Regions from separate parts of the Homo sapiens genome. Here regions 1, 2, 3, 4 and 5 are each reported to be linked to region 6. The links are microRNA targets in miRTarBase. Many come from high-throughput screens and were not tested one by one. Region 6 holds a microRNA gene; each other region holds the end of a gene's coding sequence.
What was found. Region 6 holds the annotated microRNA hsa-miR-7977 (UUCCCAGCCAACGCACCA, at 1,937-1,954, opposite strand). A microRNA usually pairs through its seed, bases 2 to 8, with sites in the 3' UTR of a target mRNA and lowers its output. Matches are read on the target gene's strand: a 7mer-m8 pairs with bases 2 to 8, a 7mer-A1 pairs with bases 2 to 7 and ends in A, and an 8mer does both.

Region 1: the mRNA of SVIP is a reported target of hsa-miR-7977. The part of its 3' UTR that is shown has no 7-base or 8-base seed match.
Region 2: miRTarBase lists SRP19 as a target of hsa-miR-7977. Seed matches in the 3' UTR shown: 7mer-m8 at 2,501-2,507, 7mer-m8 at 2,367-2,373 and 7mer-m8 at 2,174-2,180.
Region 3: the mRNA of VMAC is a reported target of hsa-miR-7977. Seed matches in the 3' UTR shown: 7mer-m8 at 1,038-1,044.
Region 4: the mRNA of ZFAND4 is a reported target of hsa-miR-7977. The part of its 3' UTR that is shown has no 7-base or 8-base seed match.
Region 5: the mRNA of CCDC122 is a reported target of hsa-miR-7977. Seed matches in the 3' UTR shown: 7mer-m8 at 2,818-2,824 and 7mer-m8 at 2,684-2,690.

What each region holds. Positions count from the first base shown.
Region 1 is chr11:22,819,699-22,823,921 of GRCh38, forward strand. SVIP (small VCP interacting protein) reads right to left here. Exons shown (of 4, transcript NM_148893.3): 4 at 1-3,435. The coding sequence ends at 3,421. Among named protein-coding and RNA genes, the nearest start is that of LINC02718, 7.6 kb to the right of the region's middle.
Region 2 is chr5:112,867,038-112,871,037 of GRCh38, reverse strand. It overlaps SRP19 (signal recognition particle 19), which reads right to left. Exons shown (of 5, transcript NM_003135.3): 5 at 1,250-3,634. The coding sequence ends at 3,501. Among named protein-coding and RNA genes, the nearest start is that of SRP19, 7.8 kb to the right of the region's middle.
Region 3 is chr19:5,908,573-5,912,785 of GRCh38, forward strand. VMAC (vimentin type intermediate filament associated coiled-coil protein) reads left to right here. Exons shown (of 2, transcript NM_001017921.4): 2 at 252-2,281. The coding sequence ends at 570. Among named protein-coding and RNA genes, the nearest start is that of CAPS, 3.6 kb to the right of the region's middle.
Region 4 is chr10:45,612,532-45,616,745 of GRCh38, reverse strand. It overlaps ZFAND4 (zinc finger AN1-type containing 4), which reads left to right. Exons shown (of 10, transcript NM_174890.4): 10 at 175-1,246. The coding sequence ends at 310. Among named protein-coding and RNA genes, the nearest start is that of ZFAND4, 58 kb to the left of the region's middle.
Region 5 is chr13:43,833,914-43,838,136 of GRCh38, forward strand. It overlaps CCDC122 (coiled-coil domain containing 122), which reads right to left. Exons shown (of 7, transcript NM_144974.5): 7 at 2,439-3,516. The coding sequence ends at 3,367. Among named protein-coding and RNA genes, the nearest start is that of CCDC122, 44 kb to the right of the region's middle.
Region 6 is chr3:176,512,834-176,517,056 of GRCh38, reverse strand. It overlaps MIR7977 (microRNA 7977), which reads right to left and starts at 1,954; the gene lies at 1,906-1,954.

The sequences.
Region 1 (4,223 bases), not on the chromosome of region 6:
GAGGCAGAGGTTGCGGTGAGCTGAGATTGTGCCATTGCACTCCAACCTGGGCAACAAGAGTGAAACTCCATCTCAAAAAACAAAACAAAACCAAAAAAAGCCAATGCAATTCAGGATATAATAACAAAAAAGTATGATATCCACAGGAGTAATGTATGAATACTTAATTTGTAGGCAATAGTTATCACATTCAAAGTCAATATTTGCAAGATGAAGCATAACTAGAAGAGGGAGACTAGAACAATAAAAAGCCATATCAAATGGGAAACTTAGTGTTTTGAGTTACTGGAACCAAAACTTCATCAAAGTCTGTTATACATACAAATGCCTTGTGTCTGTAGCTTTTGAGAAAATTGAAGAAAAAAGCCACAATACTATATTTGAATTAGCTTAGAGCATGTTTAGTAGTTAAGAGAATTTGAAATGCTTGCTTGGAGATGTTAAAGAAATATACCTTATGTCTCAACACATATAGGCAGTCATGGCTACTTACCTCTTACTGGTCTATTCATGCAGAAATTATTCAAAACTGGCAAGAGCTGCTTTTGTCTTCTAAGAACATAGCATAATGCTTATCAGTGAAAATAAAAAGTCAAACATTTGGAGAAAGGGAAAATTCAAAGTTCATGTCCATTTTCCTGGGGTACAAAGGATAGACAGAATTTTTATGATAGTATTATTTCTTTAGGAAAAAACAGGATACTAATTACATCATTTTTCCTTTATAGAAAATCCACCTATAAATCCAGGGATTGTATGAACACACCAAACAACCTTTGGTTCTGTTGCTCTTCTGAATCCCAATGTGATTAAAATGTTCCTGAGGTTTCCCTAACCACCAACTCAGGTTCTAAGTATTTAGGATGTAGTAAAGATAAAATTTTGTTAAAGAGACAGCTAAAGCTAATTTTTACATAGAAAAAAATGTATATTTATATCCCTAAAAGGCAATACAGAATTTATAACCAAACCATGTGTGAGAACTGTTAAATTACATTCCAAATACCAGCAGTGGAACAAACAGAAACACAGAGATGTTTTAAAAAACATGCAGCACGTTACAAAGAGGCCGTGTAATAATTCACAACTTTTGTTAGCAGCCGTTAAGTTTGATTAGTATTAAGCAGCAATGGTTTAAGCAATTTTAAATCATGATATGATAGTTACATATATGCATTTTACTGTTCCAATTATAGTTTAGTAATAGGTCAGGGGTTTGAGCAACATTTTAAGCATTATAATTTTCTCCTAAATTATTTACTATGGGAAATTGGCTTCCACTTAAGGTTTTCATAGAAACTGATGGTTATTTTATGAGGGAGATGTCTGGACGTATGTGTGTATGTGCATGTGTGTGTGTGTATATACACACACATATATAAATTAGAATTTGCAGATATTATGTGTATATATATACACACATATATAATATATATATTATATATATATATAATTTTTTAGTCATGTTTTTAGTCATTTGCTTTTTTTTTTAGTCATTTACCGGTTTCTCATAAGACATCCAGTCACTTCTTTTCCCTTGCCCTTTCCTAACACTGTTCCTAACATTTGGGTACCACCCCTTAGCTCCTGCGACCCATGTGGTTTTGGAGAAAGCTGATCACACTCACGGTGACAGGCCATGGTTGGAAGTAACATGTTCCACTTTTCACGAAAAGTAATAGATCTGAATATCATTCATGGTTAACAATAGATAGTGTGACATTTGGGTATGACCTGCTGGTAGAAATAGGGCATGATTCCCTGGAAGTAAGTCACTTACACCAACCCAAGTTCTAATTCTTTAAGATGTAGTAAAGACAAAATTGTTCTTGCTATATTAAAATGGAAGAAAGGATTTGCAGAGTTCAAGGATGATATGCTCTAGCTCTATATGCACTCCGCTATCAATCATTCCTTTTACTTTCTGCCTTGAAAAAATCATTTTAATAAAATCAAAAATTTTCATTCTAAAATATAGTTCAATGATTTCACTACCCTTTATGAACAAAAACAGCACGAATCCTCTAAAGAAGAAAATTGAGCCAAATTGTTATGTTTTGCCTAGATATTCACACAATATTTCACACCATAATAGAAAAAATAATTTTTCCATGAGAAGTCAAGAGACCTGTATTATATAATAGTTCAAACTTTTAAAAATTAACATGTACAATACACTGCAGTATAACATAATTTTTGTTGGAGGGGTAGATGAAGATAGTGGCTCAGTTTCCTTTGTGTAAAGCAAGTGAACTTGGTCGATTTAACTTAAAATTTCTATTAGCACTTAATATCTGCAAATTTTAATTTAGGGCTCAACATGTGGCCTTGCCATTTAAAAGAGCTATCAGCCTTAATAGCTAACACAAATTCTTTTATTTCAGTGTATTATATAGGAGAAACAAAAAATGCTATAAAATTCATGTTTCTAATGAACAAAAATGTTAAGGTTTATGACTATGCATTGTATAGAATTACCTAATATTTTTATATCTGAAGTAGACCTTTTGTAAGTACAGTACCTACATGTTTTTTTCATACATTCATACTTGCCTTCGCAGTTTCACATCTGTATAAATCTTATGATCGTTCTCTAATAAGTACACAAGATTAACACTACTTATGAAATATGGACAAATATATTACTACTCATTATAACCCATCCAGATTATTAGTTTAACTCATTCAATTACTACAAAGATCCTTACAGAGCTGAATTTAATATACAATAGAACATCACTGCCCTCTGATGGTATCACTAATATATAATTTTAAATTCAGCAAACAAAAAATCCTTTATCATAAAGTAAAACAGGGTATGTTAATTTTATAAGCTACATAAATAAAAATAAATTGGAAAAAATTTTACATCTGCCTAAGAATACTCATTACTAAGTTATAAAAATTTACAGTGCTCCTTCACATCAGCCCTTCAAATGATTTTTTCAAGATTCTCCCTGATGATCAGTTTAAAGGCACTAAGTCCATAAGTTTAATCAAACATCTTCATAGTGAAATAAAAACAGATGTAACGCGATGCAGCACAAATATAAGTAGTTAGATCATTTTATAAAGGATGAAAAGACAACTGCGAATTTTAATCTTAGAGGTATATGCAGAATGTTTACATGCAGTGTATGTATATTCACTATTTAGTTCCATTTTTTAACTACTAAGAAAAATAGCAAATCACCCACTAACTGCAGAAGAGCAAATGTAGGAAAATCAGTATTTAATGAAAAGTCTAGCCATTCTCTAAGCTTGAAAATCAACGTTTTTTTAGCATTGCACTTAAGGGCAATAATATTACAAAGTCTGAATCTTCATTTACTCAAAGAGAAGAAATTAAATTGATGAAGCCCACTTGATTGCAGATAATAAACAGTTATTGGCAGTAGATTCTTCTACTCATGTTATGCTTTATGAAACTGTCCACTAGAAAAGATAAAAAAGAGACAGAAAAGTAAATTTTACTTGAAGTTATATAACAGTACTTCAGTGAACAAACAGGTAAAAAGAGGAATATGGGACATAGAAATACAAAATGATTTTTCTGAATAGCAGCTATTCATAAAATTTTACATTATAGTCCAAAGCCTGAAATAAGATGATAGTTTAAAAGCATAAAGAAGACAAAATATCTGGTCAGATTGGTGGGTAGTTGCAGGATAGCTCTGTCTCACTGTCTTGCCTGTAGTTTTCAAGAGTAACTGTAGAATGTGCTGGGAATGTAACATCCTGGGATAGCAAATGAATGGCCAAGGACAGCTCAAGTTCTGTTCCAGTCCCTCCCTAAAGACAGGACGTCCTTCAATGCTTTAGCCCAAGGAGTCATGTAGTACCTCCCCTTCTAACCCCCAGGTCATAAAACCCAGGGCACTCATCTGAGGTTCAAGTGGGGCACACACAGATGTCATCAACCCCAGGCAGTTTTCCTTGGGAGACAAGCTTATAATGAATCCTAGGCTTCTGTTGTCCCTTGTTGCCAATCTGTAAGTAATAAACTCACTCCACGTTAAATGTTTTTGGTTTTGTTTTGGGATTTTCTTGAGACAGGGTCTCACTCTATCGCCCAGGCTGGGGTGAGGTGGGAATGGCTCACTGCAGCCTTAACCTCGCAGGCTCAAGTCATTCTCCCACCTCAGCCTCCCGAAAAGCTAGGACCACAGGCACATGCCACCACACCTAATTTATTTTTTATTTTTGTAGAGACAGGGTCTCGC
Region 2 (4,000 bases), not on the chromosome of region 6:
TACTAAAAACTACATAAATTAGCTGGGTACAGTGGCAGGCACTTGTAATCCCAGCTACTCGGGAGGCTGAGGCAGGAGAATCACTTGAAACCAGGCGGCAGATATTGCAGTGAGCTGAGATCGCACCGCTGCACACCAGCCTGGGCAATGTGTATTTGGCTCATGATTAGGAGCTGGGAAATCCAAAAGCATGGCACCTGTATATGGCAAGGGTCTTTGATGCTGTGTGATCCCATGGTGGAAGGTGAGAGGACAAAGAGGGTGCGCTGAGGAGAGCAAAAGAAAAATTTGGCTGAACTCCATTTTATAACAAACCCACTCCTCAGATAGTAACATTAATCCATTCCTGAGGGCACAGCCCCCATGGCCCAATCACCTCCCAAAGGTTCCACCTCTCAATAACATCACAATGGCAATTAAATTTCAACATGCATTTTGGAGGGGACATCCAAAATATGGCACTGACAATCCTTATTGCCCCAAAAGTAAACCATTTCCAGATTTCAACCATCTTTCTGTGACAAATCTTTTCAGTTGGCTACCACAGTACGTTTTTTTTTTTGAGACAGGGTCCAGCTCTGCTGAGGTGAGTGGAATAGCATGATCACGGCTCACTGCAGCCTCACCTCCAGGGCTCAAGCAGTCCTCCCACCTCAGCCTCCCAAGTAGCTAAGACTATAGGCATGTGCCACCATGCCCAGCTAATTCTTTTTTTTGTAGAGACAGTCTCACTATGTTGCCCAGGTTGGTCCCGACTTCCTGGACTTCAGTGATCCTCCTGCCTCAGCCTCCCAATGTGCCGCGATTATAGGTGTGAGCCACTGTACCTGACCCAGTATGCATTCTCAACTACTTTCTTCCTTAGCTGCCTTGGCTGTCAGGACTGAAAAAGCTATGCAGTCATCCCTCATCTGTGGTTTCACTTCTGTGGTTTCAGTTACCTTGGTCCCAAAACAGGTGAGTATAGCACAATATTTTGAGAGAGACTGACAATTTCCACATACATTTTATTATAGTATATTATTATAATTGTTCTATTTTATTGTTAATCTGTTACTGTGTCCAATTTATAAACTTTATCATAGGTATGTATTAATCCATTCTCACACTGCTATGAAGAAATATCCAAAACTGATTAATTATAAAGGAAACAGGTTTAACTGACTCACAGTTCCGCATTGCTGGGAAGGCCTCAGGAAACTTACAATCATGGCAGAAGGCAAGGAGAAGCAGGCACCTTCACAGGGCAGCAAGATGGAGTGACTGCAAGCAGGGGAAACGCCAGGCACTTATAAAACCAACAGATCTCCTGAGAGTCACTCATTATCTCAAGAACAGCACAGGGGAAATTGCCCCCATGATCCAATTATCTCCACCTGGTCCCACCCTTAACACATAGGGATTTGGGGATTATAATTCAAGATGAGATTTTGGGTTGGGTAGCAGCCAAACCATATCAAGTATATATACATAGGCAAAAACATAGTATATATAGGGTTCAGTACTATCTGCTGTTTCAGGGATCCACTCTTGGAATGTATTCCCCAAGGATAAGGAGGACTGCTGTGTTCACTTTCTCAGCCTCCTTTGCAGCTAGAGATGGACCTGTCACAGTTCTCAACAATGAAACTAAGTGAAAGCCTGCTGGGAGGAATTTTGAGAAATCTCATGCCTATGGTCTCAGCTACTTGGGAGGCTAAGGTGGGAGAACTGCTTGCCAGAAGTGGCTGGCACAGCTACCTTTTCTTCCTGCCTTGCACTCATGTAAATATCAGCCCTTTTACAAGCAGGAACAATAATCATAAAGGTGTTAGAAATATGTCATGGACAGCAGAGCGGAAAAATACAAAAAAGGCATCACTGAGAGCTAAACCAACCACCACAGCAACCTCACTTGGATTTAACATATGAGGCAAAAATATCCTGCTTAAATCCTTCATTGTTTTGTTACACAGCAAACACATCCCCTTATTGTTTTGTTACACAGCCAAACACACCCACTTTCTCAAAGAAGGCTGCTCTGAATTATGTTTTACACATACTCCCCTCTCCCCAGGATTTATTTGTAAGTCAAATATATAAACTAAGTCTTATACTATTATGTTCACTATAAAACAGAAATTGTTAGAGTTAAAAAAAAAAAGTCAACAGGCCAGCTAGCTCATGCCTGTAATCCCAGCACTTTGGGAGGTTGAGGCAGGAGGATCACTTGAGCCTGGGAGTTTAAGACCCTGTCTCAATTCAAATAAATAAATACATATAAATCTCCACAACTCTAGGTTTGCTTATTTTACAATCAATAGGAATGTTTGACTGTGAGCAATAAAAATGTAAAGAAGGCCGGGCACGGTGGCTCATGCCTGTAATCCCAGCACTTTGGGAGGCTGAGGTGGGCAGATCACCTGAGGTCGGGAGTTCGAGACCAGCCTGACCAACATGGAAAAACCCTGTCTCTACTAAAAATACAAAATTAGCCGGGTGTGGTGGCACATGCCTGTAATCCCAGCTCCTAGGGAGGCTGAGGCAGGAGAATCTCTTGAACCTGGGATGCAGAGGTTGTGGTACGCCGATATCGTGCCATTGCACTCCAGCCTAGGCAACAAGAGTGAAACTCCATCTCAAAAACAAACAAACAAACAAACTTAAAAAAAATGGAATTTACTGAAAATATGAGATAGCTTGCAGAATTCAAGGAAGAGCTAAACCAGGCCTCAGGAAGAACAGGAATTGGGATAGCTCAAAATCACTACTTTCAGAAACCGCTCTGAAATTCTGGAGCACCAATCCAATTTCATTTGTTGAAGGAAAGTGTACCTCAAGGTGCTAAAGCACAGTTAATTTTACAACTCCCATGAAAATCATGTTCTTAAACCTACAAAATAAGCAAATTTAAAGCTTAAAATCCAGGACTTTCCATGTCAAAAAACAACTGAACGATTCGATTACAATAATATATTAAAATATCATCTACAGACTGGCTTTTTACAGACTCCCCTGTCCCCCACCCACAAAAGGACCTACCACAGTTTCTTCTAGTTTTAGCCTCACACTATGGAAACTTTCACTACATATTTTATTCTTAATTATCCCTCCTCTCCTAGCATTAGTATATAAGCAAAAGCTGCAAAAGTCAGTTTCAAATTTTATTTCATTAACTTAAAAGGTGGACAAAATGTTTATTTTAAATCTAATTGAAATTTATCTGAAACAACTTATTTCAAGTAACTTATTGTACAGTCCATTGTCCATTTAAAAATATTTTCTTCCAAAAAACTGCATTGAAAGACAAAAAAATTCTTTTATACGGCATATACGCGAGATGCAAACTTCTGATGTAAATTTGTTTCACTGTCAACTCCGATGATAAAGATGAGAGGCACAAGGGTTCACAGTTCAGTTAAATGATGCAAACAAAAAGCTTCTGTTTCCCTCCGATACAAATTAGAAGTCTCCATTCATGTCTCTTACAGTAGTACCACATACTTGATGCTGATACTAGGTTACTTCTTTTTCTTTCCTTTCCCTTTTTTACTTCCCTCTCCTTGTTGAAGACTTTGGTCAGCACCTCCTGTTTTTTGTGTCCTTGTTTTTAGTTTAGGTATCATTTCTGCTGCATACAACATTACTGACTTACCTAGGAACCAGAAGTTAGGCTTAGTGTATAATCTGAGAAATAAGACATAAAAAGTCATCAAATTGAATATCACAAAGTGTAAGAAACTATCACATCAAGAAAATGGAAAATAACTTTTTTAAAAAATCAAAAATCAAATGACTGAAGACACTGACTAGCTCAAGTCGGGGGAAATGTACTGAGAGTGAGAATAATGCTGAAAATATTTAAATGAATAAAATCAAAAGGCAAAACACTAAGTATGAAACAAAAATTTTGGTTTGGTCCTAGTAATCAGCTTGAAGATCTAAGGAGTATGTATCCAAATATACCTCAGGTAGAAACAGAGTCAGAATATCACTGTATCTTAAGACACTGAAATACAGG
Region 3 (4,213 bases), not on the chromosome of region 6:
ACCATTGCACTCCAGCCTGGGCGACAGAGCTAGACTTCGTCTCAAAAAAAAATAATAATAAAATAAAATATAATAATAATAATAAAAACAAAGAAACATTCTGTTCATAACCAGGGAGGACCCTGAGGCAGTGGTGAGGAATGCGGGCTTTATCCCAAAGGTGATGGGGAACCTCTTGCGGGTCCAGAGCAGGGAGGAGCAGGTGCTGTGGTCCTCAGTTCTGTAATCACCTCCTCTTGCCTTCCTGCCAGTGAGATTGCCACACTCCAGGAGCAGCTGATGACCTCAGAAGCCACTGTCCACAGCCTGCAGGCCACCGTGCACCAGAGGGACGAGCTCATTAGGCAGTTGCAGCCCCGGGCTGAGCTGCTGCAGGACATCTGCCGCCGCCGGCCACCCCTGGCTGGGCTGCTGGATGCCCTGGCTGAGGCTGAGCGCCTGGGGCCCCTGCCGGCCAGTGACCCCGGCCACCCACCCCCCGGTGGGCCTGGTCCACCCCTTGACAACAGCACTGGGGAAGAGGCGGACAGGGACCACCTCCAGCCTGCAGTGTTTGGGACCACAGTGTGAGCCCGGAATGCAGATTACAGAATGGAGACAGAAAGCCACTGCTGTCAGTGTCCTTGGGAGTCACCAGCACCCTGCAGGGGGACCCTACGGCAGAGCCAAAGTCCTGTCTAAGCATCAGAACAGGCTGAACAGTCAAAAAGTTTTCAAATAGGCCCACAGGCCAGGTGCAGACGTTTAACCCAGACAGAAGTGTTCTTGTTTGTTTTTAAGCTTTGAATCAGTCACCCTTGCTAAAAACCTGGCAATGCAAACACAAAGATCTGGATTTCTGGCAAGACTTGGCCAAGCTTGCCTGGAGTTCAGGGCACCCTCTTTAGCCAGGGTGTGAGTTTCTGTTTTTTGTTTTTTTTTTTTTAAGACAGAGTCCCACTCTGTCGCCCTGGCTGGGGTGCAGTGGTGCGATTTTGGCTAACTGCAACCTCCGCCTCCCAGGTTCAAGCGATTCTCCTGTCTCATCCTTCAGAGTAGCTGGGATTACAGGCGCCCACCACCACACCCGGATATTTTATATTTTTGGTAGAGACCGGGGAGGGGAGGGGGTTTCACCATGTTGACCAGGCTGGTCTCAAACTCCTGACCTTAGGTGATCCACCCGCCTCGGCCTTCGAAAGTGCTGCAGTTATAGGTGTAAGCCACCGCGCCCGGCCCTAGCCTAGCTTTTGTAGCATGCAACTGTCTCCTTTTTATACGCCCTAAAGAATATATTTTTGAACTCCTTGTTTCTGCGCTGTCCTTCTTAGCCCAGGACATTCAGGGTGCTTTGCTTGTTGTCAAACCAGGGAAAGGAGAAAACTCCTGTGCCTTTCTGGGCCAGCCTGTCACCCTGGCCTGGTCGGCAGCCATTCCCCTACCTCCTCACTCAGGAACTGTCACACCAGGAACCGGCGAGGGGCACAGCCTGTTTCAGACCAGAAAGGTCGGAGGCCACCCACGGCCTTCAGGATGGCGCCCGCCTGCCTGCCTGGCAACAGTGACCCCTCAGTGCAGTAACAATGGGCCCATTTTCTCCTCTGGATGAACAAGGAGGGGGGTTGTTTGTACAAAGGAAAGGCAGGCTGGGGCCTGTCTGTGCTCAAGAATAAACCGGATGATTTCCTGGCCTGGGGGCAAGAGGGAGGCCCTCTGTGTTATTTGTGCCTCCTGGTAGGGTCCTGCTGGGCCAGGTAGAATCTAGGGAGTGTAGGCCAAGCACTCTCTACAGCGATTGCATCTAATCTTCGAGTTTCCCTGTAGACACAGGCTTTGTCCTCATTTTACAGCTGTGGAAAGTGAGGCCCAGGCCGGGCGCGGTGTCTCACGCCTGTAATCCCAGCACTTTGGGATGCGGGTGGATCACCTGAGGTCAGGAGTTCGAGACCACCCTGGCCAACATGGTGAAACCCCGTCTCTACTAAAAATACTAAAATTAGCCGGGCTTGGTGGCGGGTGCCTGTAATCCCAGCTACTGAACCCGGGAGGCGGAGGTTGCAGTGAGTGGAGATTGCACCACTGCACTCCAGCCTGGGAGACAGAGTGAGACTCAGTCTCAAAGAAAACAACAACAACAACAACAACAACAACAACAACAACAAACAGAGGCCCAGAGGTGTGAAGGGAACACACTCCGGGTCTGGAGGGCCAGGGCCACTTCCAATTCTGGGGGAAGTTATTGCTGAAATTCTGTTTTCTTTCTTTCTTTCTTTTTTTTTTAAAGAGACAAAGTCTCACTGTTGCCCAGGCTGGAGTGCAATGGTGTGATCACAACTCACTGCAGCCTCAAAATCCTGGTCTTGGCTGGGCCAGTGGCTCACACCTATAATCTCAGCACTTTGGGAGGCCAAGGCAGGTGGATCACCTGAGGCCAGGAGTTCAAGACCAGCCTGACCAACATGGTGAAACTCCGTCTCTACTAAAAACACAAAAATTAACCGGGTGTGGTGGCGCGTGCCTGTAATCCCAGATACTCGGGAGGTTGAGGCAGGAGAATCACTTGAACCCGGGAGATGGAGGCTGTAGTGAGCCGAGATTGTACCACTGCACTCCAGCTTGGGCGACAGAGGGAGACTCCGTCTCAAAAAAAAATCCTGGGATCAAGCTATCATGCTACCTCAGCCTGCCAAGTAGCTGGGACCATGGGCATATGCCACCATGCCTGGCTGCGTTTTTGCATTTTTTCTAGAGATAAGGTCTCATTACATTGCCCAGGCTGGTCTTGAACTCCTGGCCTCAAGTGATCCTCCCGCATTGGCCTCCCAAGAAATTCTTACTAAACATTTACAAATGAGATGCCAAAACAGCACTTCAGTAATAGTGGTTATATTTTATAGTTCTCTACACAGAAAAAAAAATGCTGCTTGTAACACTCATAGACATGAAAGTATTTCTCTGCCTATTTAAATAATTCTGGATTGCAGTGAGCCACCAGGATTTTGGCAGCCAGATGTCACCATGATTTCTCATAAAACTGATGATGTTACATCAGTGGTGGCCTGAATCAAGATGCTGGGATGCCTGTAACCTACAGATTGGTTTCAGACTCCAAAGGCAACTTTTTTTTTTTTTTTTTTTTGAGACGGAGTCTGGCTCTGCCACCCTGCCACCCAGGCTGAAGTACAGTGGTGTGATCTAGGCTCACTGCAACCTCTGCCTCCAGGGTTCAAGTGATTCTCCTGCCTTGGCCTCCTGAGTAGCTGGGATTACAGGCATGCACCACCATGCCCAGCTATTTATTTTTTTTAGTAGAGATGGGGTTTCAAAATGTTGGCCAGGCTGGTCTTGAACTCCTGACCTCAAGTGATCCGCCCACCTCAGCCTCCCAAAGTGCTGGGATTACAGCTGTGAGCCACCGCGCCCAGCCCTGGCCTCTTTTTTTAAGTTATTTATTTATTTTTGAGACAGAGTCTCACTCTGTCGCCCAGGCTGTGGTGCAGTGGCATGGTCTTGGTTCACTGCAACCTCTGCCTCCTGGGTTCAAGTGATTCTCCTGCCTCAGCCTCTGGAGTAGGTGGGATTACAGGCACCCGCCACCATACCTGGCTAATTTTCTTTTTTTTTTTTTGAGACAAAGTCTTGCTCTTGTCCCCCAGTCTGGAGTGCAATGGCACGATCTCGGCTCACTGCAACCTCCGCTTCCCAGGTTCATGCAATTCTCCTGCCTCAGCCTCCCGAGTAGCTGGGATTACAGGCACATACCACCACGCCCAGCTAGTTTTTCGTATTTTAAGTAGAGACAGGGTTTCACCATGTTGGCCAGGCTGGTCTCAAACTCCTGACCTCAGGTGATCTGTCTGCCTCGGCCTCCCAAAGTGCTGTGATTACAGGCATGAGCCACCGCACCCGGCTGACTAATTTTTGTATTTATAGTAGAGACAGGGTTTCACCATGTTGGCCAGGCTGGTCTCGAACTGCTGACCTCATGATCTGCCCGCCTCGGCCTCCCAAAGTGCTGGGATTACAGGCGTGAGCCACCGTGCCCGGCCAGTTTATTTACTTATTTTTAAGAGGCGGGCGTCTTGCTCTGTAACCCAGGCTGGAGTGCAGTGGTGCGATCATAGCTCACTGCAGCCTCCAACTCCCGGGCTCAAGTGATCCTCCTGCCTCAGCCTTCCAAGTAGGTGGGATTACAGGAACACACCACCATGCCTGGCTAATTTTTTGTAGTTTT
Region 4 (4,214 bases), not on the chromosome of region 6:
CTTTTTGGGGGTATTTATGCTTGTTTACGAATGGAAGGGAAATGTCAGCAGTGAAATTGCTAAAAAGAACCAAAGGGCCCCTGTTGGACTACCTGAAGTCAAGCTCCTGTCTCCCAGACAGATGAGCCTTTCATAGAAATACAACTATTCACGTAAACTTTTTTTGTGCTTTAGATGTGGAAACAACTTCTGTGCATCTCATCGTTATGCAGAAACTCATGGCTGTACCTATGATTACAAGAGTGCAGGGAGGAGATACTTGCACGAGGCAAATCCTGTGGTTAATGCACCAAAGCTTCCAAAAATCTAACTCTTCCTCTACATCTTACTGTTCTGCCCGGGATTCGTATTATAATGACAGAAGAAATGTTGTTTAGACTATTATTTTTGTTCGACTCTAAAAGATTTGCCAAATAACAAAAGCATACAATGCATACTGTTGGAGAACAAGAATGCTACTGTATTTTACATCTTTATTTCTTGGTGAAACAAAAGTTTTAAAAGTAGTTTTAACAACTTTACACTGGAATGATTTAGCTTTGTTATTGCATGTCTTGTGTTAAGTGTTTTGTATATGATATTGCAGTTTTACTAGGCAAATCTTCAAAAGATGCACTTTAGGAAACGAAATATTTCCTAAATAACCAGGCTTCCACATTGTACAGAATGAGCAGTCATGTAATGAATGGCTCTACTCAGATTGACCATATGGGTTTTTTCTTTTTCTTTCTTTTATTCTTCTCCTTCTTTTTTTTTCAGAGGTGGGATGGGTGGAGATTTTTTAAAAATCCCACGTGTGAAAGTTTACTGGCTTTATTAGCAAGTTCCTTTTTACTTCAAGCTACTTTTTATAAAAAAGAACATTTTTCCAGTGTGGTTTTTAACAGATAATACATTTCTTCCACATTCAGATTAGTATTCGGACATGAATCCATTCTATAAAACACATCGTGTTCATGATAGTGTATATTTTACTACTTTTTGAATGTTAATTTTAAAATAGAAGATGTCCCACTTGCCATTAAATATAGAAGCCAACTTTTTACCTTTTGAAATATGGCTACATTTAAAACAAAATCTCACAGCTCGGTTTTTCTTATTTGTTGAGTGCTATTACCAGGAGAAATTCAAATAAATATTCAATTTCATTATGAATTTCATTATTTATTTATAATAGTTTTTCTTTTATAAATAATTTTTCTTTTATAAAACTATTTAATTAAATGAGTGATTTATTTTACGTGGATAAAATAACTATCAGTATAAAAATATTCTTTTAGGATATTAAGGACCCTGTTCCCCAGGTGTAACCAGAAACCACTAAGGCACTTAGTGGCCACTTGCTGTATAGAAGCTCAGTTCAGACTGATGCTGAACCCTGGTAAACAACTAGCACCTAACCCAGGTAGACTCTGCAGCCCTGGGGTAGCAGACTCTGCTAAGAGTACCAGACTCTGCTAAGAGTACCAGAAGGCTAACTTAGGAGCTGTGAGGGGCCCCTTCCTCTACTTAAGGCTGAATGAACTGGAGAGCTCACTGCCCCTGCTCCTGTAAGAAATGAAATGTTGATGGAGACAGATGCCTTCAGACAAAGAGGGCAGTACATTCATAAGAGGGAATGGCTAAAAGTTAGCAGAGGAGCTATGCAAATGGGGGTTGAAGGCATGCTTTTTAAGAAGGGTGGATATAAGTAGATGAAAAATACTTTCATCTGTGTTATGAATAATTCAGTATTTCCTCCTGTATCAAGAAGACACGTGTTTTAGACACTTAAAATATAAGAACTGCCTTACAGAGTTAGACTGCTGAGAAATGGACCATAGCATATTTATTCTGCAAACAAATATGAATGCCTAGGGCCTACTTGATGTAGTGTGCTATGCTTTTTAAACCAAGACTATAAGTAGAAGTAAGTCTCATTCTAAGTTTTACTAAAGATTGTGGTGAAAGTTAAGTCTTTTTACTAGTTTTCAATAACTGACAGCTGAACTATTTTAATTCAACAAGTTATATCATTATATTGAGGGGCATTTCTTTATGCTTTAAATTCTTACACAGACACATTCCAAATTTTAGAGACATTGTATCTGTCTTTGCATTTCCAGTAATTAGCAGAGTAGATTGCCTGTAGGTACTGGTTAAACATTAGTTGAATAAATTGATGCATTGGACAACTTAACCGTGATTTTTTTTTTTTTTTGACATAGAGTCTTGCTGTGTCACCCAGGCTGGGTGCAGTGGTGCGATCTTGGCTCACTGCAACCTCTACCTCCTGGGTTCATGTGATTCTCCTGCCACAGCCTCCCGAGTAGCTGGGATTACAGGTGCCCACCACCATGCCTGGCTAATTTTTGTATTTTTAGTAGAGAAGAGGTTTCACCATGTTAGCCAGGCCAGTCTTGAACTCCTAACCTCAAGTGATCTGCCCACCTTGGCCTCCCAAAGCGCTGGGATTACAGCCATGAGCCACTGCACCTGGCCCATGCTTTTTTAAAAAAGGCATTTATATTGTTTTATTTAGCTAAGCCCATTTTATGTAACGAAGTTCAGTTTCTGGATTTTTTTAAAACAGCATTTAGTTTTAACAGCACTAAAAGTTTTAAATTTTTAACTTTTGGCTATGTGGAATATTTTCAGGTTATATTTAATGTAATCATTCTAAAAAGGGAAATCCAAATACTCAGGTGTCCTTAAAATCCTATCAGTGTACGTGTAACTTGTGGAGACAATTATTTTTTAAAAGACAGGAATTCATTTTCTCATATATGTTTAATGTGATTTTTCTTTTTTTTTTCTTTTTTTTTAGATGGAGTCTCACTCTGTTGCCAGGCTGGAGTACAGTGGCATGATCTCAGCTCACTGCAACCTCTGCCTCCGGTTCAAGTGATTCTCCTGCCCCAGCCTCCTGAGTAGCTAGGACTACAGGTGCGCACCACCACGCCCAGCTAATTTTTATATTTTTAGTAGAGACAGGGTCTCACCATGTTGGCCAGGATGGTCTCAGTCTCTTGACCCCGTGATCCACCCGTCTCAGGCTCCCAAAGTGCTGGGATTACAGGCATGAGCCACCGTATCCAGCCTATGTTTAATATGTTTTTAAGCCATCAAGACGAATACTCAAATTTTGCATCTAGTCATGTTTTTCAAAGTGTAAGCCGTCTACCACTCCTGGAACGTGAGATAATTTTAGGTATTACATGGGTGAACATTTGTAATAATTATATATTTTAATGTATTGGAAAATGTAAGTATAAGCAGCTTAAGTTGAAAATAATGTAAAATAAATTGATTTAGGTTAAAAATGTTGGTTTAAAATTGGCAAGGATTAATATAGCAAAAATCATAAAAATAAAACAATGAAATTTAAGGAATGAAGGCATGATATTTTAAGTTTTCTTTGAAAATTAAGTTAAACTTTTGAAATGGTTGATGAAACTAATATACATAGCTTTAGAAAAACTAAGGGTTAAAAAGTAAAATTTTATCATAGACACCCCCCTCCAATTTCTTCTAATAATTAATTTTAGTTTTTCTAGTTGTTACCATCATAACACTAGCCAGTATATTTTAGACGTTATTTTATTCTACTCTACTATTAAAAGTGAGGAATTAGCTTAACAACACATTACCTCAATACTTCCTAATTTTTGTCAGTGTATTAGTCTTTTCAGGCTGCCATAACAAAGTACCATAACCTACAGAAATTTTTCTCACAGTTCTATAAGCTAGAAGTCTCAGATCAAGGTCCAACAGGGTCAGTTTCTGGTGAGGGCTCTCTTCCTGGCTTGTAGACAGCTGCCTTCTTGCTTTGTCCTCACATGGCCTTTGTTCAATGTGTACACACAAAGTGGGTTGTGGGTGGGAGAAGAGCATGAGTGCTATCTGGTGTCTCTTCTTCTAAGGACACTAGTCTTGTCAGATCAGGGCCCCACCCTTATTACTTAATTTAATCTTAATTACTGTCTTACTCCAAATACAGCCACACTAGGGGTTAGGGCTTCAAAGTGGGAATTTTGAAGTGGGGGGCACATGCGTTCAATCTGTAACATACTGTCCGTGGCCTGCCAAAATCTGTGTTCTTGTCACATGTAGATATATTCTCTTCCATCCCAACCACACTAAAAGTCTTAACTTGTTTAAGTATCAACTCTAAAGTCTAAAATCCAAAGCCTAATGTAAGCATAAATCAGGTATGGCCGAGACTTTTGGTACCA
Region 5 (4,223 bases), not on the chromosome of region 6:
CTCATATTCTAAGCTAGGTTCAATTATACAGAACTAAAATTAAAAATAACTTCAATTTTCTAATATTAGAGTTTATGATTGTGTTGAAATATCATATCCACTAAATCATCAGGCTTTGGATACCTCAAATTTTAGTTCTTAATTAATCTGAAATTCTCTATTATCTGAAATAGTTTCCAAGATAAGAAAGAACAGAGATATAGACCAATGGAACAGAACAGAGCCCTCAGAAATAATGCCGCATATCTACAACTATCTGATCTTTGACAAACCTGGCAAAAACAAGAAATGAGGAAAGGATTCCCTATTTAATAAATGGTGCTGGGAAAACTGCCTAGCCATATGTAGAAAGCTGAAACTGGATCCCATCCTTACACCTTATACAAAAACTAATTCAAGATGGATTAAAGACTTAAACATTAGATCTAAAACCATAAAAACCCTAGAAGAAAACCTGGGCAATACCATTCAGGACATAGGCATGGGCAAGGACTTCATGTCTAAAACACCAAAAGCAATGGCAACAAAAGCCAAAATTGACAAATGGGATCTAATTAAACTAAAGAGCTTCTGCACAGCAAAATAAACCACCATCAGAGTGAACAGGCAACCTACAGAATGGGAGAAAATTTTTGCAATCTACTCATCTGACAAAGGGCTAATATCCAGAATCTACAATGAACCCCAACAAATTTATAAGAAAAAAACAAACAACCCCATTGAAAAGTGGGCAAAGGATATGAACAGACACTTCTCAAAAGAAGACATTTATGCAGCCAAAAGATACATGAAAAAATGCTCATCATCACTGGCCATCAGAGAAATGCAAATCAAAACCACAATGAGATACCATCTCACACCAGTTAGAATGGCAATCATTAAAAAGTCAGGAAGCAACAGGTGCTGGAGAGGATGTGGAGAAATAGGAACACTTTTACACTGTTGGTGGGACTGTAAACTAGTTCAACCATTGTGGAAGTCAGTGTGGCGATTCCTCAGGGATCTAGAACTAGAAATATCATTTGACCCAGCCATCCCATTACTGGGTATATACCCAAAGGATTATAAAACATGCTGCTATAAAGACACATGCACACGTATGTTTATTGCGGCACTATTCACAATAGCAAAGACTTGGAACCAACCCAAATGTCCAACAATGATAGACTGGATTAAGAAAATGTGGCACATATACACCATGGAATACTATGCAGCCATAAAAAATGATGAGTTCATGTCCTTTGTAGGGACATGGATGAAGCTGGAAGCCATCATTCTCAGCAAACTATTGCAAGGACAAAAAACCAAACACCGCGTGTTCTCACTCCTAGGTGGGAATTGAACAATGAGAACACATGGACACAGGAAGGGGAACATCACACACTGGGGCCTGTTGTGGGGTGGGGAGAGTGGGGAGGGATAGTATTAGGAGATATACCTAATACTAAATGATGAGTTAATGGGTGCAGCACACCAACATGGCACATGTATACATGTGTAACAAACCTGCACATTGTGCACATGTACCCTAAAAATTAAAGTATAATAAAAAAAGAAAGAACAAGGAGAAAAAGTTTCTTTTTCAAAGAATTTTTGACTGTCATAAAATGTAAAATAGGTATATGTATTAAGGATATTTTAGAAAACTACATTAAAACTTACTTTTAAAAATAGAGCACATTATCTTAAGCAGATTACAGCTATTTTCTTCATATCTGAATTTAAAAACAAGTTTTTGAATCTATAACTCAAGGTGTTATCATTTACAAATATTTTGAATCTCAATATAAACTTTAAAACACTTTAGAAAACTATAATTTTTTATAAGCGATAACTACACTTAGAAAATATAATAACTTTTTAATATGCAAGTTACATTAAAATATACTTATATAATCAGCATTTGGTTCTGGCTTATCTCCAGCCGAGTATAGTGTGTACTCCCCACAATCTGTAGGTTTCACCATTTTCACTGTAGCTTTGTTTCTGAGTCATGGACCAAAGCTGATTGTGTTACAGGATAAGCTGTTTGAAGTGTAAGCCACATTAAGCCATGCTAAGCCACAATAAAACTATTACTGTTAGACATAATAAGATTATTAATATCAGGTTTTATATCAGCTCCACTTACTGAATTTTAGCACATAGAAAGGTAAGGAGAAAATGGATTTTAAATATTTTTTGATGCTGTTTGAAATTATTTAATCCTACAAATGAATATTTTAAAACCATATCTTCCTATTTGTTTTTGTTTCTAAGTATTTGACTCAATGGAACCATGAAAAGGAGGAGCACGTTTATCTTGAAAGGGACAAGTTAACATTTGATTTATTGACATTTTGCCTTTCAGTGAGAAAAAATATGTTAGTCTATAGTGAGTAATACTCTTAAGAGTTACATGATGTTATAACTTTAATTTAGTCACAGAATACGAATAATTTATAGAAAGTGAACAAAATATTTTATTCATCGTATCACTCAAAATATGTTATTTTATAACAAAGAAAAATGATTGTTACCTTCTGGATAAAAGAGAAAATGGAGTAAAATATTTGAAGCATTGAACATACAAAAACATTATTATAAATATCAATATTTATGGGCTACTGTGAAGGCAGCTGTAAAAAAACAAGTTCCAATAAAAAGTTCGAAACAGGCCGGGCGCGGTGGCTCACGCCTGTAATCCCAGCACTTTGGGAGGCCGAGGCGGGTGGATCATGAGGTCAGGAGATCGAGACCATCCTGGCTAACAAGGTGAAACCCCGTCTCTACTAAAAATACAAAAAATTAGCCGGGCGCGGTGGCGGGCGCCTGTGGTCCCAGCTACTCGGGAGGCTGAGGCAGGAGAATGGCGTGAACCCAGGAAGCGGAGCTTGCAGTGAGCCGAGACTGCGCCACTGCAGTCCGCAGTCCGGCCTGGGCGACAGAGCGAGACTCCGTCTCAAAAAAAAAAAAAAAAAAAAAGTTCGAAACAGACAAACATTTTAAAAATCTTAACAATTTAAATCAGTGAAAATTCGAGTGTTTTTTCCCTTCTAAATTTTTACTTCATAGGGTAGTGAATGCAACATAAACAGGTATTCATGAGTATAATACATTTTACACACTCCAAATAGTCACAGAGACTCTTGCATTATTTTCCCGTAGACATTCCTATTGTCTGTCTACTGCTATCAAGTGTAGGGTTAGAAGGCATTTTAACAAATCGATGACTGATTTAAAAAAAACAACAACCGAAGACATCTGTCATTAAGACAGGTCTCTAATAGTGGATGCTTGTTATTAAGAATCCAAAAGATTTTCTTAATGTTCTGTCCAGTAATTTTTGTTGTCATGGTCTGTGTTCCACATTGCCCTATGGCAATGTTACTCTTGCATTCCAATGCATTTTCTTAATTCGGCTGCAGTTTTTTCCAATTGTTGAATGTTCCATTGCCACTGTCGTCTATTTGACTGAAGCTTGTTCACCTGACAATGCAAACGCTTAAGAATTGCATCATACCTCTTATGTTGTACCTATCAAAAGAAGAGCACACATCAACAGGGCTTGTGAAGTATAAATAGTAAACAGCCATAAATAATATTTTGACTACTCTAAAGAGGGAAGCACTTAATTAGAAACTATCCACTATAAATAATTATGATAAAAATAAACAGTAATTGTAAAACTGTTTATTCAACACTTATTACATGTTAGATACTGTGCTGAGAGCTTTCTGCATATAATTAAATTCTTATAACACCTTATGATATGGGTATTATTATCCTCATTTTTGTGTGAAGAAACCAAAGATAAAAGAGTTCAAGTAATTTGACCAAAGTTTCATAGCTAGCAAGTGATGGAGTTTGGGAGGTTAGCAGAAGTGAAATATCCATAATGGAATACCTTCTTGTTAAGAGAGTTACCGGTGTTAAACTAAATTTGCCCTGGGGGACTCTACTTTGAGTCCCTATGTAAGGAACTACAATCTAACAGTATTTAAACTAACTAAAAGCCTAACTAGGAGTATATTTTTGTAACAATAGCTGAGACTCAGTCGACCACAGCAGCCAGCTTTGGTCAATCACAGGTGGTCCGCTGACTATACCATATTCAAATAAAACAGACATTGAGCCATTGAGAGCAATCAAGCCCTTTCTGCTCCTCATTTCCATTTTCTGTCCATAAATGTTGCCTGCCCACTTTGTGAAGTGGAGCTCTCTGAACCTCTGCTGGTTCTGAG
Region 6 (4,223 bases):
CTTTACATATTCTGGATGTAAATGCCTTATCAGAAACATATTGCAAATATTTTCTTCCAGTCTGTGGATTATCTTTTCATTCTGTCAGCTATTTCTTTAGAAGTACCCAAGATTCTAATTTTGATGACCAATTTGACTATAGTTTATTTATTTTAATGGATTGTGGTCTCAATGTTATATTTAAGAAATTATTGACTAGCCAAGGTCAAAAAGATTTTCTCCTGCATTTTCTTCTAAAAGTTTTACAGTTTTAGCTCTTACATTTAGATCTTTGATCCATATTGAGTCAATTTGTGTGCATAGTTTGAGATAAAGGCCTAAATTTATCCTTTCTGCATGTTGGATATTCAATAGTCCTAAAATTAGTTGTGGAAAAGACTGTCCTTTCTCATTGAATTGGCCTGGCAAATTTTTTGAAGAAAAAGTTGACACAATTAGAAGGCTTTACTTCTGGACTCTCAGTTCCATTACCTTATTTATAGGCCTATCTTTATGTCAGTACCACACTATTTTGATTTCTATAGCTCCATAGTAATTTTATTTGTTTGTTTGTTTATTTATTTATTGAGACAGGGTTTCGCTCTGTCCCTGGGCTGGAGTGCAGTGATGTGATCTAGGCTCACTGCAACCTCTGTCTGCCAGGCTCAAGCCATCCTCCCACCTCAGCCTCCTGAGTGGCTGAGACCACAGACATGTGCCACCATACTTGGCTAATTTTTGTATTTTTTGTAGAGATGGGGTTTTGCCATATTGCCCAGGTTGGTCTTGAACTCCTGAGCTTAAGTAATTCACCTGCCTAGGCCTCCCAAATTGCTGGGATTACAGGTGCGAACTGCTATGCCTGGCCTACAGTAATTTTAAAATCAGAAAGCTCTTTTTGTTTAATTAACGAAACTTCTTTTAAGACAACGATAAGCTTTAAACATTTTCTTTTTTATATTATCTCTCTCCTCCAGTTTTTGTTTTGTTTTGTTTTGTTTTCCCAGTACTTTTCTTTCACAAAAGAAGCCTTCTTCAACTGTTAATTCTTGCTTATCTTCTCACGTTTAAAGACGGAGATTTTAAAAACTGTTTGAAGCTCTGAACGCATAGGTAAGACTGGTATACTTTGAGCTTCATTGCAGGATGATGTTTCAACTATAGTCACTGTTTGAGCATAAGTCAGGGAATAATTTATAAAATATTTGGCAACATTAAAATAATATGTCTTCTTTACTGGGAGAAATCTGCCACTGATTTTCTAAGCGAAGAAGCAGAAAGCACATGGGAAAAAATGATGTCACTGCCATCTTGACACGTTTGAAATCACAAATTATAGAAAAGTTGTATTCCTGATCGAAGAATCACTAGTATTACAGGAGTTATTAAGAAATTATTTTAGGCAGCAAGAGAGGGGAAAAGAGTCCTTGGTAAGGCTTTTTCTTTTAATAAAAAAGCAAGCCCCAAAACATTTCTTTTCTAACAGAAAGTGGCCTGAAAAACCAGACCTGCAAGCATTGATATGCAAATGCTGGTGGCTAGAAGCCAGGTCCAACCAATATGGTGGTTCCCGTGACTTTTTCTTTGTTGCCACGTATGCAGAACATCATGGTGACCAGCCAGGTAGCCATATGTGCATATTTAAAGGCTAGGGTGGGAGAGCTGGCTTTTTTGCAGGCTATGTGAATGACACACCTGGTCAAACCAATCCCCTGGCTCCTATGCAAACCAAACACCACGTCGTCCAGCCTCCCAATATAACCGACTGCTTTCTGCTACATGTGGGGTTTTCCATTTGGAGCCCTCCTCCCTCTGTATGAGGGAGCTGTTTTCTTCTTTCTTGCCTATTAAACATTCCACTCCTTAAACCACTCCACGTGTATCCGTGTCGCTAATTTTCTCCGTGCGAGAACAAGGACCTTGGGTGTTTCTCCAGACAACAGACCCATATCATTTTTGGTGCGTTGGCTGGGAAACCAAGGTACAATATCCATTGGGGTTGGTGAGCAGAAGAGCAAACTCAAAACCTGTCCTTTCATTCCGAGGCTCTTGGCTTCCATTTTAAAATCAAATCAAATCAATAACAGCATCTGTCAACCATCTAGATATGCTTAGTGTGGCTGCCATTCTTAAAGACTCGCATGTCAGCCTTGCTGGGGAGAACATGAAGACCCCCCTCCCTCCAATACCCTGGGTCATTGGGAATGTTGGCCGTGCTTCAAACCAGCTTTTCTGTTCATGGGGAAAATTAGCCATTGCATAAGGCGGGGAAAAGTTCTGAAGCAACTGAGAATTTCTGGCCAGGGCATTTCCTAGTGTTATTCAAAAGCTTCTGGACCGGACTCAGCCTCCAGCAGCCTGCCCAGGTGTTGGTAAAAGATCCCCAGTTATCCTGTCGCAAAACTTTTTTTCTGTTTCTATCCACGGTCGCTATGCCTCTTATTCTCTTTGTGTGTCGAATGTGTGGGAATTTTTACAGCCTAGGGAAGTAATCCTGTTAGGCAAGATCAGGAAATGCTGTAATAACCGGGGCTATAGCTCAGGAAAATGCTGTTGCAATCTTCTAGGAACAGAGGTCTCTGAAACCCCGGTTGTGAGATGAGTCCCTACTATGCTGCTGGTGGCACATAGTATTCCTAAGCCAACAGCGCCACCTAGTGGAAATAGACACCCTCTTCATAAGACGCATTGCTTGTCCGCTACAGTCCACCGCAGCTTCCTAATTTTTCCTTTTTGCCCCTTCCTACTGGAAACCAGGCTTTATGCTGCTTCTGTGAACAGGAAAATTCTGCCTTCAACAATTAGGAGTAAATTGTCCTCTGCAGCCAAATTTGAGTCCTGATCCTGTCCCATCAACAGGAAAGTCACGATTAGGCCCCCACATCCCTTTAAGGAAACTATTCTGTCTCCAATAAGACAGTCCTTAATTAGTAAGGGGATTTTAAGTCTGAAAGTTAACCAGAACCATTTTTCTAAGGGTTAAGGCTTTAACACGGGCCATAGTAGCAGGCAATCTAGCACATTCCCTCCATTAAAGGACACTTGCCTTTTATATAATCTTTCCCAAGGTCAATTTTTTTTAAGGGAGGCACACAGGTCACACAAGTCTAGGAAGTCAAAGGGAAATCACAGGCAGAGGACTAGAGCTACTTGAATGAGCATGACTAGCCCCAGTTGCTTGGTTTCTTTGGTGCCATGGCTTGGAGGGTCACACATACAACCATGGGCAGCACATTTAACAGGGTGCTGGGACCCAGGAACCAAGGAAGGAAAACAGTTGGGGGGACGCTCCCACTGTCTTCTTCTCCACTCTGGGTTATACAGAGAGAGGAAGGAGACAAAAGAGACACCTTTTTCTCACTTCTCTTTCTAGATGGGTAACAGATCATGTTCAGCATGTACTCCCCTGGAGTATATTCTAAAGCACTGGGACTGCTTCAACCCTGAGACTTTGTAGAAAGAGCACCTCATATTCTATGGCATAAGGGCATGGCCTTCTTACCATCTTTAAGACAGACAAACCTGGCCTGCTGGGGGGAGCCTTCATTTTAATACTGTCCAACAATTAGATATTTTCTGCAGATGGAAGGACAAATGGTCTGAGATACCCAATGTACAGGCTTTCTTTGCCCTGCGAGACGACCCAGACCTTTACAAGCTTTGTACAATTGACCCAGTTCTTTTAGCAGCATGACAGGCAAGCCCACAAGGAATAGTCCCCCAGAGCTAAAGCAGATTCCAGAGGAGCAATCTGAGACAGCTATTGAATGTCTCAACTCAGTTCCCCTCATCCAGAAGCCCCTCCAATCATACCATCAGGTCCTCCAGGTCCACCATCTCCAGTATTACCCACTTTCCCCACTTCATTCTTATCTCTGCAGGAAGTGCCTGATGAAAATCGTGCCATGAGGGTTCACGTTCCCTTCTCATTACAGGACCTTAAGCAATTAAAGGGAGACTTAAGCAGATTTTCTGATGACCCCAATAAATATATAGAAATTTTCCAAAATTTAACTCAGGTGTTTGACCTCACATGGAGGGATGTTATGTTGCTCCTAAGTCAGGCCTCACTGAAGCTGAAAAGCAAGCAGTTCTGCAGGCAGCAGAAAAATATGAAGATGAACAACATCTCCTATGGCAGACCAAAGAGAAAAAAAGGAGATAGGGAAGGTGAAGAAGTAATGGAAACTCCATTCCCACTAGGAAGAGAAGCAGTTCAAGTAGACAACCCTGATTGGAACCTC